Homo sapiens: one gene and its partners. The protein of the gene in region 1 purifies or fractionates together with the protein of each later gene. This does not show direct contact. Each region holds a gene or a part of one and is shown in the gene's direction. Other genes may lie near its edges.

What was found.
Region 2: the proteins of HERPUD1 (region 1) and SLC35E1 purify together in Homo sapiens (affinity purification with mass spectrometry, with the first as the bait; one large-scale study listed by BioGRID). This does not show direct contact.
Region 3: the proteins of HERPUD1 (region 1) and TMEM201 purify together in Homo sapiens (affinity purification with mass spectrometry, with the first as the bait; one large-scale study listed by BioGRID). This does not show direct contact.

Annotation. Positions count from the first base shown.
Region 1 is NC_000016.10:56,938,642-56,942,141, forward strand, and holds part of HERPUD1 (homocysteine-responsive endoplasmic reticulum-resident ubiquitin-like domain member 1 protein), read left to right. Parts: intron 1-595; coding exon 596-718; intron 719-1,253; coding exon 1,254-1,604; exon of another isoform or gene 1,605-1,760; intron 1,761-2,224; exon of another isoform or gene 2,225-3,490; coding exon 3,491-3,500. UniProt on the Homo sapiens protein: Component of the endoplasmic reticulum quality control (ERQC) system also called ER-associated degradation (ERAD) involved in ubiquitin-dependent degradation of misfolded endoplasmic reticulum proteins.
Region 2 is NC_000019.10:16,562,234-16,565,957, reverse strand, and holds part of SLC35E1 (solute carrier family 35 member E1), read left to right. Parts: intron 1-3,724. UniProt on the Homo sapiens protein: Putative transporter.
Region 3 is NC_000001.11:9,609,187-9,612,910, forward strand, and holds part of TMEM201 (transmembrane protein 201), read left to right. Parts: intron 1-653; coding exon 654-725; intron 726-1,319; coding exon 1,320-1,619; intron 1,620-1,828; coding exon of another isoform or gene 1,829-1,887; intron 1,888-2,032; coding exon of another isoform or gene 2,033-2,154; intron 2,155-2,566; coding exon 2,567-2,704; intron 2,705-3,724. UniProt on the Homo sapiens protein: Critical regulator of angiogenesis and endothelial cell (EC) migration. Promotes the migration of endothelial cells, which is essential for angiogenesis.

The DNA of each region.
Region 1 (3,500 bases):
CTTGTGCAAAGCCCCTGTCTTCCCTGAGCTGTACTTGGGTTCCCCTTGTAAAATCTCCTTCATGAGATTGCTGTGGACCCAGCAGCCTGTACAGGACCCCCGGTGGTCAGTAAGCATGCACAGGTGATACCACATGCACACTTCACTATAGATTCAGATGGAGGATGGAGGAAGAAGTGGATATTGGGAGGATGGGAGAGATTTCCTTCAGGAAAGACTGGGAGAAATGTGGCTTTTGAGCTGCTCTCTAAAAGATGAACAGTGGGTTGAGACCTGCAGTGAGACTCAACAAGTCAAAACTGAGGTGGGATCTACTTAACCCAAAAAGGTTGTTTATATATCTGTGCACTCAGCAAGCAGGTGGCAAGGGCTGTTGTTTTCCTGTGGGATGGGACTGTGGTAGAAGTGCTGTGTCATTTAGTACCTTCTGTGCTTGTGGTACATGGGTGCGTCATACAGTCATTTACCATGTAACTGCCGTAAATTCCATTCTTCTGTCTCTTCGATTTGAATTCTTGATTTTAATTTAAACTTAGTTTTCATTTGTTCATACTCAACCCACTCAAAATGAGTGTTTTTTCAAATCTATGTATAGGCCTGAAGCTGCCCAGCAGGCATTCCAAGGCCTGGGTCCTGGTTTCTCCGGTTACACACCCTATGGGTGGCTTCAGCTTTCCTGGTTCCAGCAGATATATGCACGACAGTACTACATGCAATAGTGAGTCCTTCCCGCCATGCTGGGTGTGGCCAGGGCTCCCGGGAATTGAAGGGAATTTTATCCATGTTACCTGTAAAGTTCAGAATGGAGGGATGAGTGTATTTTCATCAGTCTGCAGAGCCCTGCTCTGTTTGGTCTGTGGGTAGAGTGTAAATGACAGCTGCTACCTGATTTGTGTATTGACACAAGGGTGCTTTTGTCTGATACATAGTTTAGTGACTTTATTTAGAACATGTTACTTTCTTTTCAATTTGTGCTATCTTCAAAGTTTTGTGAGGATTTTAATTTGCTACTGTGCCATAATCTTACAGTGGGCTTGATGTTTAATTTCAGGTGAAATTCACCTTGTGGCTTTTCTTAGAAAAGGCATTTATAGATATAGTTAGTAAGGAAGTTCTTCACTAAATTGAAGAAAAATCAAAGGCATATCTACCTACTTGAAATTCTTAACAGTAAAAGACTGCTGTGTAAATAAGCCACAGACTTCACGGTGCTTTGGTCTCAACAGTATCTGCCTCTGTCGTTTTTATTTTAGTTTAGCAGCCACTGCTGCATCAGGGGCTTTTGTTCCACCACCAAGTGCACAAGAGATACCTGTGGTCTCTGCACCTGCTCCAGCCCCTATTCACAACCAGTTTCCAGCTGAAAACCAGCCTGCCAATCAGAATGCTGCTCCTCAAGTGGTTGTTAATCCTGGAGCCAATCAAAATTTGCGGATGAATGCACAAGGTGGCCCTATTGTGGAAGAAGATGATGAAATAAATCGAGATTGGTTGGATTGGACCTATTCAGCAGCTACATTTTCTGTTTTTCTCAGTATCCTCTACTTCTACTCCTCCCTGAGCAGATTCCTCATGGTCATGGGGGCCACCGTTGTTATGTACCTGTAAGCAGATGGTTTCTCTAATATAAATTACACTACACTGTGTTCACACTAAGCAGATTTTGCTCTTTTTGTTTCTTGTTTTTTTTGAGATGGAGTCTCGCTCTGTCATTCAGGCTGGAGTACAATGGCACAATCACTGCAATCTCCGCTTCCCAGGTTCAAGCGATTCTCCTGCCTCAGCCTCCTGGGTAGTTGGGATTACAGGCGCCCACCACCATGCCTGGCTAATTTTTATATTTCTAGTAGAGACGGGGTTTGGTCATGTTGGCCAGGTGGTCTCGAACTCCTGACCTCAAGTGATCTGCCCACCTTGGCCTCCCAAAGTGCTGGTATTACAGGCGTGAGCCACCACTGCGCCTGGCCAGATTTTGCTCTTTTTTGAGCAGTCTCAGTTACTGTAGAAGGAGATGTGTTTAAATAGTATATCACTCTGTGGCTGGGCGCAGTGGCTCACACCTGTAATCCCAGCAGTTTGGGAGGCCGAGGCAGGAGGATCACATGAGGCCAGGAGTTTGAGACCATCCTGGCCAATATGGTGAAACCCCGTCTCTACTAAAAATACAAAAAATTAGCCGGGTGTGGTGGCACGGGCCTGTAATTTACTTGGGTGGCTAAGGCAGGAGAATTGCTTGAACTGGGGAGGCAGAGGTTGCAGTGAGCCAAGATCGCACCACTGCACTCCAGCCTGGGTGACAGAGCAAGACCCTGTCTTAGAATAAATACATAATAAATAGTATGTATTCTGGCACTTTCGATACAAGGAATTCATGGCTTGGTTGTATGGTCCCAAGAACATATCAATCCTGTGTTAATATAAGAATATTATCTTGTCCTCTAGATAAGCTACCTTACCTTCCAGGCTCACAAACCACAAGTATGTAGCCATACTGAGGCATGGAACAGAAAACTGTATTTGTTTTGAATGAGAACACATTTGCCTTTATCAGACCACAGCTGCCTTCCAGGGTAAAGTCAGGCACTGACTGTTAGCATGGCCCTGAAAGGCAAGGGAACCTTCACATACCTGACATTTGGTTTTAGCTGTGGCCCGAAGCAGTAGTTCTCAACTGGGGGTGGTTTTGTACCCTCTCTCCCCAGGGGACATTTGGCAATGTGTAGATATTTTTGGTTGTCACATCTAGGGGAAGTGGTCCTGCTGGCGTCTAGTTAGTAGAAGCAAGAGTGCTGCTGAATTTTCTACAATGCACAGGACAACTCCCACAGTAAATATTTGGCTCAATATGTCACTAGTGCCAAAGCTGAGAAAGCCTGGCCTAGAGTGATGGGTCTTCGTGGTTGAAACTAAAAGAAGAAATTTTCCTGTATAGTAAAAATGGATTTTTATTTTAGCTTTTAAAAATAAAAAAGGAATAATTAGAATATAATGAACACTCAAATATCCACAATTAGTCATTGTTAATATTTTATTATATTTAAGACTTGGGATTTAATTGGTTTCTTCAAATAAAACGTTTAGTTAATATTTTCTGTAGTCTCTAGAATCATATATTTAAAAGACCAAATGTAGGTTGTCATTATGTTATATATAATTATAGCTTTGTAGGTATATGCATTCTCCCCGCTCTGTTCAGGTTTTCAAGGGTAAGGTTTAGTTCGTCATAAGCATTTATTGAGTGCATACTATGTGCCAGGTGCTGTTTATATGGCTGGGTGTGCAATGATGAATAAAACACAGTCCCTGCCTTCAAGGACCTTACAGACTGGTGAGAATGTCTGGGAGACAGTGTGATCAAATGCCTCTGTAGATGGGTCTTGCAGTGAGCTTATCAGGGTGCTGCTGTGATTAGAGGTGGGGAGCCTTGGATTCTTGAGTAAGTCTCACTGTGACATCAGCTAAGATGGACTTTTATGTGCTTCCTTTGAAGGCATCACGTT
Region 2 (3,724 bases), on another chromosome or scaffold:
GGCTGGTCCTGAACTCCTGGCGTTAAGAGATCTGCCTTGGCCTCCCAAAGTGCTGGGATTACAGATGTGAGCCACTGTGCCTTGCCAGCCCTGGAACTTTGAAAACTATGCACTGGCCAAAAAAAAAAAAAAAAAAAAAAAAAGCCGGGCGCAGTGGCTCACGCCTGTAATCCCAGCACTCTGGGAGGCCAAGGCGGGCGGATCACGAGGTCAGGAGTTTGAGACCAGCCTGGCCAATATGGTGACACCCTGTTTCTCCCAAAAATACAAAAATTAGCCAGGCATGGTGGCTCGCACCTGTAGTCCCAGCTACTTGGGAGGCTGAGGCAGAAGAATTGCTTGAACCCAGGATGTGGCGGTTGCAGTGAGCCGAGATGGTGCCACTGCACTCCAGCCTGGGTGACAGAGGGAGACTCCGTGTCAAAAAAAAAAGAAAAAAACATGCGCTGCCTGGGTGTGGTGGCTTACGCCTATAATCCCAGCACTTTGGGAGGCCAAGGTGTGTGAATCATTTGAGGTCAGGAGTTCGAGACCAGCCTGACCAATATGGTGAAATCCTGTCTCTACTAAAAATACAAAATTAGCCAGGCGTGGTGGTGCACGCCTGTAATCCCAGCCACTTGGGAGGCTGAGGTGGGAGAATCGCTTGAACCCAGGAGGCAGAGTTTGCAGTGAGCCGAGATCGCACCACTGCACTCCAGCCTGGGCAACAAGTGTGAAGCTCCGTCTCAAAAAAAAAAAAGAAAGAAAGAAAACTGTGCAGCTCAGTTCCTCCCTGGTCTCTGTTTCCATTTACTCCACGTCGAATCTTTTTGCCACCTGCAGGGTCTGCCTTCAGAGAATGTGTTATAAATGAATGCAAGTGCCTGCGGTGAGGAGGAGGCCAGTGCGATTCTTCCAGACTCGAGTTAGAAAGGAAAAGTAAATATTTATTGAGGTCTTAATGTGGTCTAGCTGGATTTGTGACATTTCTTATCTTTAATCCTTGGCTCCACCTGCTGAAGTAGTGGATATTACCTCTATTTTCCCAATCAGTAAACCATGGCTCACTTTTCTAACTTTCGTTTCACATTGATGAGCTGTAATTCTTCTGTGAAGAACTTTCCATCTTCCAGGACTAGTTTGTTACCTTGAAGTATGGTACGAGAAAGGCAGTTTAATGCTTAACTGTTCCTTTTGATGACTAATTTTCAGGATAGAGAGTTGGAGCTTACTCCAAATGTTGACCAGAGTTGAGGGTTTGTTTGGGGGTAGGGAAGGGGTTCTCTTTTTTTCTCCAGCATCATTGTGAACTTTTATGTGTTTGTCAGTTGCATGAATTATTCGTTTTCCTAGTCAAATTGTCCTGTCTTGGCCAGGCGCAGTGGCTCCAGCCTGTAATCCCAGCACTTTGGGAGGCCGAGGTGGGCAGATCACTTGAGGTCAGGAGTTCAAGACCAGCCTGGCCAACGTGGTGAAACCCCATCTCTACAGAAAATACAAAAATTTGCCAGGCATGGTGGTGCACGCCTGTAATCCCAGCTACTCAGGAGGCTGAGGCAGGAGAATTGCTTGAACCTGGAAGGCGGAGGTTGCGGTGAGCTGAGATCGTACCACTGCACTCCAGCCTGGGCGACAGAGCGAGACTCCATCTTAAAAAAAAAGAAGAAAAAAAAATTGTCCTGTCTTAGCCATTGGAGCCCTTCTGATTGGCTCCTTGCCCTTCTAGCACTGTGGGTCAGCGTTTCTCCCAGCGGGATGCCCGCCTTCACCTTGTGTACTTCCCATCCCAGAGCTGCAGTCAGCCCCTCCTTCAGGACTCCAGGTGCCGTTAGTGGGGAGCGGTATTTAGAGACACAATCCAGGTGCCATGGGTGCTTTTTGCTGCTGGGTGGTCATTGTTGTTAGGCCTTTACTGTGAAAAATTAGGAAGTACACACTTGGGGCAGCAGCAAAGAGTTCCTAGCAATTAGCGTCACTTTCAGTTGAACAGTCCAGATCTTTGCTGTTTTGAATTTCATATTTAGATCTCGTCGCTGGTATGCTTGGTTCCGCTCCTCGTTTCTTAGTTGCTTATTCTACCCGTTATTCACTGATGTTATTCTACTGTACACTCACTCATATAATTGCTTCAGAATGAGCATTCTCACAGCACAATTGCAACTGGAGTGCTGAGAAAAGGTTAGTATTTCTTTGCAGGCTGGGTGTGGTGGCTCACACCTGGAATCCCAGCACTTTAGGAGACCGAGGTAGGTGGATCCCTTGAGGCCAGGAGTTCGAAACCAGCCTGGCCAACGTGGGGAAACCCCATCTCTAGAAAAAATATAAAAATTATCTGGTGTGGTGGCGTACGCCTATAATCCTAGCTACTAGGTAGGTGGAGGTTGCAGTGAGCTGAGATCACGACACTGCACTCCAACCTGGGTGACAAAGTGAGACTGTCTCATAAAAATAAAAAAAAAGAAGAAGTCTGGTCATGATTCCTGTACTCTCCCTGTCCCCTCCCTGACCATGGATAACATTTCTTAGGCTCCTAGTTCACCTGTTCCATATTTTTGCAAATATAAGCAAATTTGCATGTATAATCACCCTCTGTCCTTATTACACACAGAGTAGCTTTTTATTTTATTATTTTATTTTATTTTATTTTATTTTTTGAGACGGAGTTTTTCTGTCTCCTAGGCTAGAATGCAATGGCATGTTCTCGGCTCACTGCAGCCTCCGCCTCCCGGATTCAAGCAGTTCTCCTGCCTCAGCCTCCCGAGTAGCTGGGACTACAGACACCCACCACCGCGCCCAGCTAATTTTTTGTGTGTTTTTACTAGAGGTGGGGTTTCTCCATTTTGGCCAGGCTAGTCTCAAACTCCTGACATTAGGTGATCCACCCACTTCGGCCTCCCAAAGTGCTGGAATTATAGGCGTAAGCGACCACGCCCAGCCCAAAAAGTAGCTTTTTAAATTTACAGGTCAGGCACAGTGCCTCACACATGTAATCCCAGTATTTTGGAAGGCAGAGGCAGGCAGACTGCTTTAGCCTCAGGAGTTTGAGACCAGCCTGGTCAACATGGTGAAACCCCGTCTCTACGTAAAACAAAACCAAAAATTAACCCGGCATGGTGGCACATGCCTGTAGTCCGAGCTACTTGGGAGCCTGAGGTGGGAAGATCACTTGAGCCCGGGAAGGTCAAAGCTGCAGTGAGCCATGTTTGAGCCACTGCACCCCAGCCAGCATGACAGAGCAAGACCCTATCTCAAAAATAAATATAAACATACAGTCATCCTTCCATATCTGTGGGTTCCACACTAGTGGATTCAGCCAACTGCGAATTGAAAATATATGGTAGAAAAACAAAATACTATAATAAAGAATAAGACATTTTAAAATAATACAGTATAACAATTATTTGTATAGCAGTTTTATTGTATTAGGGATTACAAGTAATCTAGCGATGATTTCAAGTATATGGGAGGATGTGCATGGATTACATGCAAATACTAAACCATTTTATAAAAGGGACTTGAATATCTGTAGATTTTGGCATCCGCAGGGGTCCCTAGAACCAGTCCTCCGTGGATACTGAAGGGGAGCTGAACTATTCTGCACCTTGTTCATTTCATCTCATCGTCCCAGAGAGCTCTTCATAACGACATAGAAGGCCTTTCTCATTTCTTGTACGGCTGTGTAATAGTGTCAGTGGGTTTCCTGTCAGTTCCTCTGCTGTTCTGTGTTACAGCTCATTAGAGT
Region 3 (3,724 bases), on another chromosome or scaffold:
CCCTTATCCAGCCTATCCCCTGGCCTGGTGAGGGGAGGGTTATCTGCATGCTGCAACAGACCCTTCAGAGCCCACAGGTGGCAACAGGACATGAGGCAGTCCCTGGGTCCCACATTCAGCTCTCAGCCAGCCACTTGGAATTGGGGCCCCTGCCCTTGGGGTGCGTGCGCCTGATTTAGGAAAAGGCAGCGTGGTTGGTGATCCCTGGGATCGAGAGAACAGGCAGTTGGGGTCTGCAATTAGTGGAGAAAGTGGGACTAGATGGCTGGAAAAGCAGGCCCTTCTGTGGGAAGAAGGGCATGGAACGAGGAGTGGACAATATGCCCAGTGCCGACTCTTCTCACCACCTGCTGTGAGCCTCAAGTTTCTTCCTGACCTCGTGATCTGATCTGCCTACCTCAGCCTCCCAAAGTGCTGGGATTACAGGCATGAGCCACTGCGCCCAGCCCAAGCCTCAGTTTCTTTATCTGCAAAAAGGGAACGTGCCCAGCAGCCCTCAGACAGCAGTCCGAGGAATCCGTGAGCACCTGTGTTTCCATGAAAGCACATTTGTAAAGAGCAAAGGCTGGATTGGGATTTCGGCAGAGCATTTGTGGGGGCCTCTGCACGTCATCCACAGGCCTGACGTGTCGCCCGCTTCTCTCTGTCTCCAGACTCCGGCTATCTGTTCAGCGGTAGCCGCCCACCATCTCAGGTGTCTCGATCTGGGGAGTTTCCTGTTTCAGGTGAGGAAGACAGAGAGCTAAGTGGGGGACGGGGCAACATGAAGCCCGGGCGTTCCAGAGCATGGTGGTTTGTGTGAGCTTTGGGGTCAGACAGACCCCAAGTGTGTGTTCACATCTCAGCCCTGGGCAAGTGACCTACACACCTGTGCCTCAGTTTCCTCTTGCGTGAAATGGGAATGACAGTCTCTAGGATCAGATGGTACCATGCTGCTCTGCCGTCCTCAGTGGCAGTCACGGCTGGAACTGGTGCACCAGGTGCCAGCTGGCAGCAAGGCCTCGGGTGAGCTGGCCTTGTACCTCCAGGGTTTGCTGCTATCTGGCCTTGCTCTCAGCTGATGGTACCCAGGGCTTTGGATGGAAATCAAGGGCAGAAGGCCATGGCTGAGGCTCCGGGATCTCTCCTCTCCCTCAGGTGCCTGGTAGAGGGCACCTCTCCTCCTTCAGCTTTGCAGCAGGACTTCCCCCTGTCCCCAGTCTCTGCACCTTTCCTGTCTTCCCGGGTTAATAGAAGAATGCCCCCAGAAATGAAATAGCGCATTGTAGCGTTGCAGTGACAGGAGCCCACGTTCACATCATCTTCCTCCCTCCCTCCAGATTACTTCTCTCTTCTGTCGGGGAGCTGCCCCTCCTCCCCACTCCCTTCCCCAGCGCCTTCCGTGGCCGGCTCGGTGGCCTCCAGCTCCGGCTCTCTGCGCCACCGCAGGCCCCTCATCAGCCCTGCCCGGCTCAACCTGAAGGGACAGAAGCTGCTGCTGTTCCCGTCACCCCCTGGAGAGGCCCCCACCACGCCCAGCAGCTCCGATGAGCACTCGCCTCACAACGGCAGCCTCTTCACCATGGAGCCGCCCCATGTTCCCCGGAAGCCGCCCCTGCAGGACGTGAAGCACGCCCTGGGTACGGCCTTCTGACCACCCCAAGGGGCCGTGGGAGGGCCTCTGCTGCCAAGAGGCCTGGCTGTGCGGCGGTGGGGGGGCTCATCCTTGCTCTGACTCCGGTGTGCGCCTTCCCACCCTGGAGCTCTAGGCACCCCATTCCGGCTCTGGTGACTTGAACCCTCTGGGACATTGACCTCTAATGGCTGATTTCAGTTTCTCCTTTTGCAGTTGACCTTCAGGGTCCTCTGTTTCTTGGAACTGATCGAAAACACATCACGCATTGCCAGGTGCGTGTGGCCACAGATAGTTTCACTCAAATGGTGCTGTACTGCAAAGCATTTAAAATGTTTATAGTTAGCCCCCAGCCTTTAAAACCTACAACTTTCAACTTTCACATGAATTTGTAGATTTCCTTTTTTTTTTTTTTTCGAGATGCAGTCTCACTCTGTCGCCCAGGCTGGAGTGCAGTGGCGTGATCTTGGCTCACTGCAACCTCCTCCTCCAGGGTTCAAGAGATTGTCCTGCTTCAGCCTCCCGAGTAGCTGGGACTACAGGTGCGCGCCACCATGCCTGGCTAATTTTTATATTTTTAGTAGAGACGGGATATCACCATGTTTCCCAGGCTGGTCTTGAACTCCTGATCTCAAGTGACCCACCCATCTTGGCTTCCCAAAGTGCTGGGATCACAGGCGTGGGCCACTGCGCCCGGCCTCGAATGTTTAGATTTCCCACGTCTCTTTCAATGTCAGAGATCTGGTCACCTTGGGCCTGAATACTGGCAGACAAGAGGTGGCAGGACAGTTGAGCAAGGACCTGGCCCCCCACTGTCCAGGGTGGATGAGTGGCTTGGGACAGCCTGGCTCACCACTTCTGACAACTGTCCTTAGAGTGGAAGTACAGCTGCCCCGCGTCTGTCCCTGGAGGGAGCCATGAGCGCCACTGAGAAACACACCCTTCTCTCTGCAGACCTGAGATCCAAGCTGGAAAGAGGCAGTGCCTGCAGCAACCGCTCCATCAAGAAAGAGGACGACTCTTCCCAGTCATCTACCTGTGTGGTGGACACCACCACCAGGGGCTGCTCGGAGGAGGCCGCCACCTGGAGAGGTCTGTACCCTGAGGTGCGGGAGGGGAGGGGGTGGGCACACATCCGAAGCCACCATCTCCCCCAGGGGGGTCCAGAGCACTGACAGAAAGAATCTTCCAGGACATTGCAGTCCCTGAGTGGCCGACAAGTAACCCACCCGGCGCCTCTGAATCCAGGGTCAGGGACTCAGTAGACGGCACTCCCCCTCTCGGGATTTGGGCCCCGATCTGCACTATTCCAGTAGCTTCTGGCCCCAGGCAGCTATTTAAATTAACTGAATTAAAATTAAATAAAGTTTGAAATGTAGTTCTTGAGCTGCACTAGCCACATTTCAAGTGCTCAGTAGGCACCTGTGGCCCGTGGCTGGCATTTAGGACACATACCGAAGGCTGCCATCCTGGCCGGAAGTGCCCAGAGAGCCTGGGTGCACCGGGACCACGTCACGCTGGGGCTGCAGCCTGCACCGGGTGCCGAGCTGCCTGGCTCAGATCCCAGGTTCTCTGCTCACTAACCCTGGGGCTCAGGGGCAAGAGACCAGATCTGTGGTACACATCATCACTCCCTGGGTGGGGAGGAGGGGGTGTGTGTTGAGGGAGATGGACAGATCAGCAAGCAGGGCTTTTCCTGGGCAGGTCATTTTGCACTGACTCTCAAAGCCAGTGCTGCCCCAGGCTGGAGGGTGGCCCAGCAGCTTGGAGGCCTTGGTGAGAACGCAGGCTGCGGCATGCAGCAGGTGGACCTGGGTTGGCTGCTTATTCCCTTGGAGGCCTGGATGGGGTGCTCCTGTTCCCAGCCCCCATGACCTCATCTGTAAAGTGGCCATTGTGGTCACTGCCTCATCACCCAGGCCCCAGCTCATGACAGCCCAGCCCATGGCCTTCCTGGCGGCTCAGGGTTAGGAAAAGCTGTGCCTTCAGGGAGGCAGGGAGTGGGGGTCTTTCCTGCTAGGGAAGCCTTTGGCCAAGAGAAGAATTGGGGGTGAGCCTCACCAGTCTCAGAGAGTACCCTGGGCAGAGCCTTGAGCTCCCCACAAACTGCAT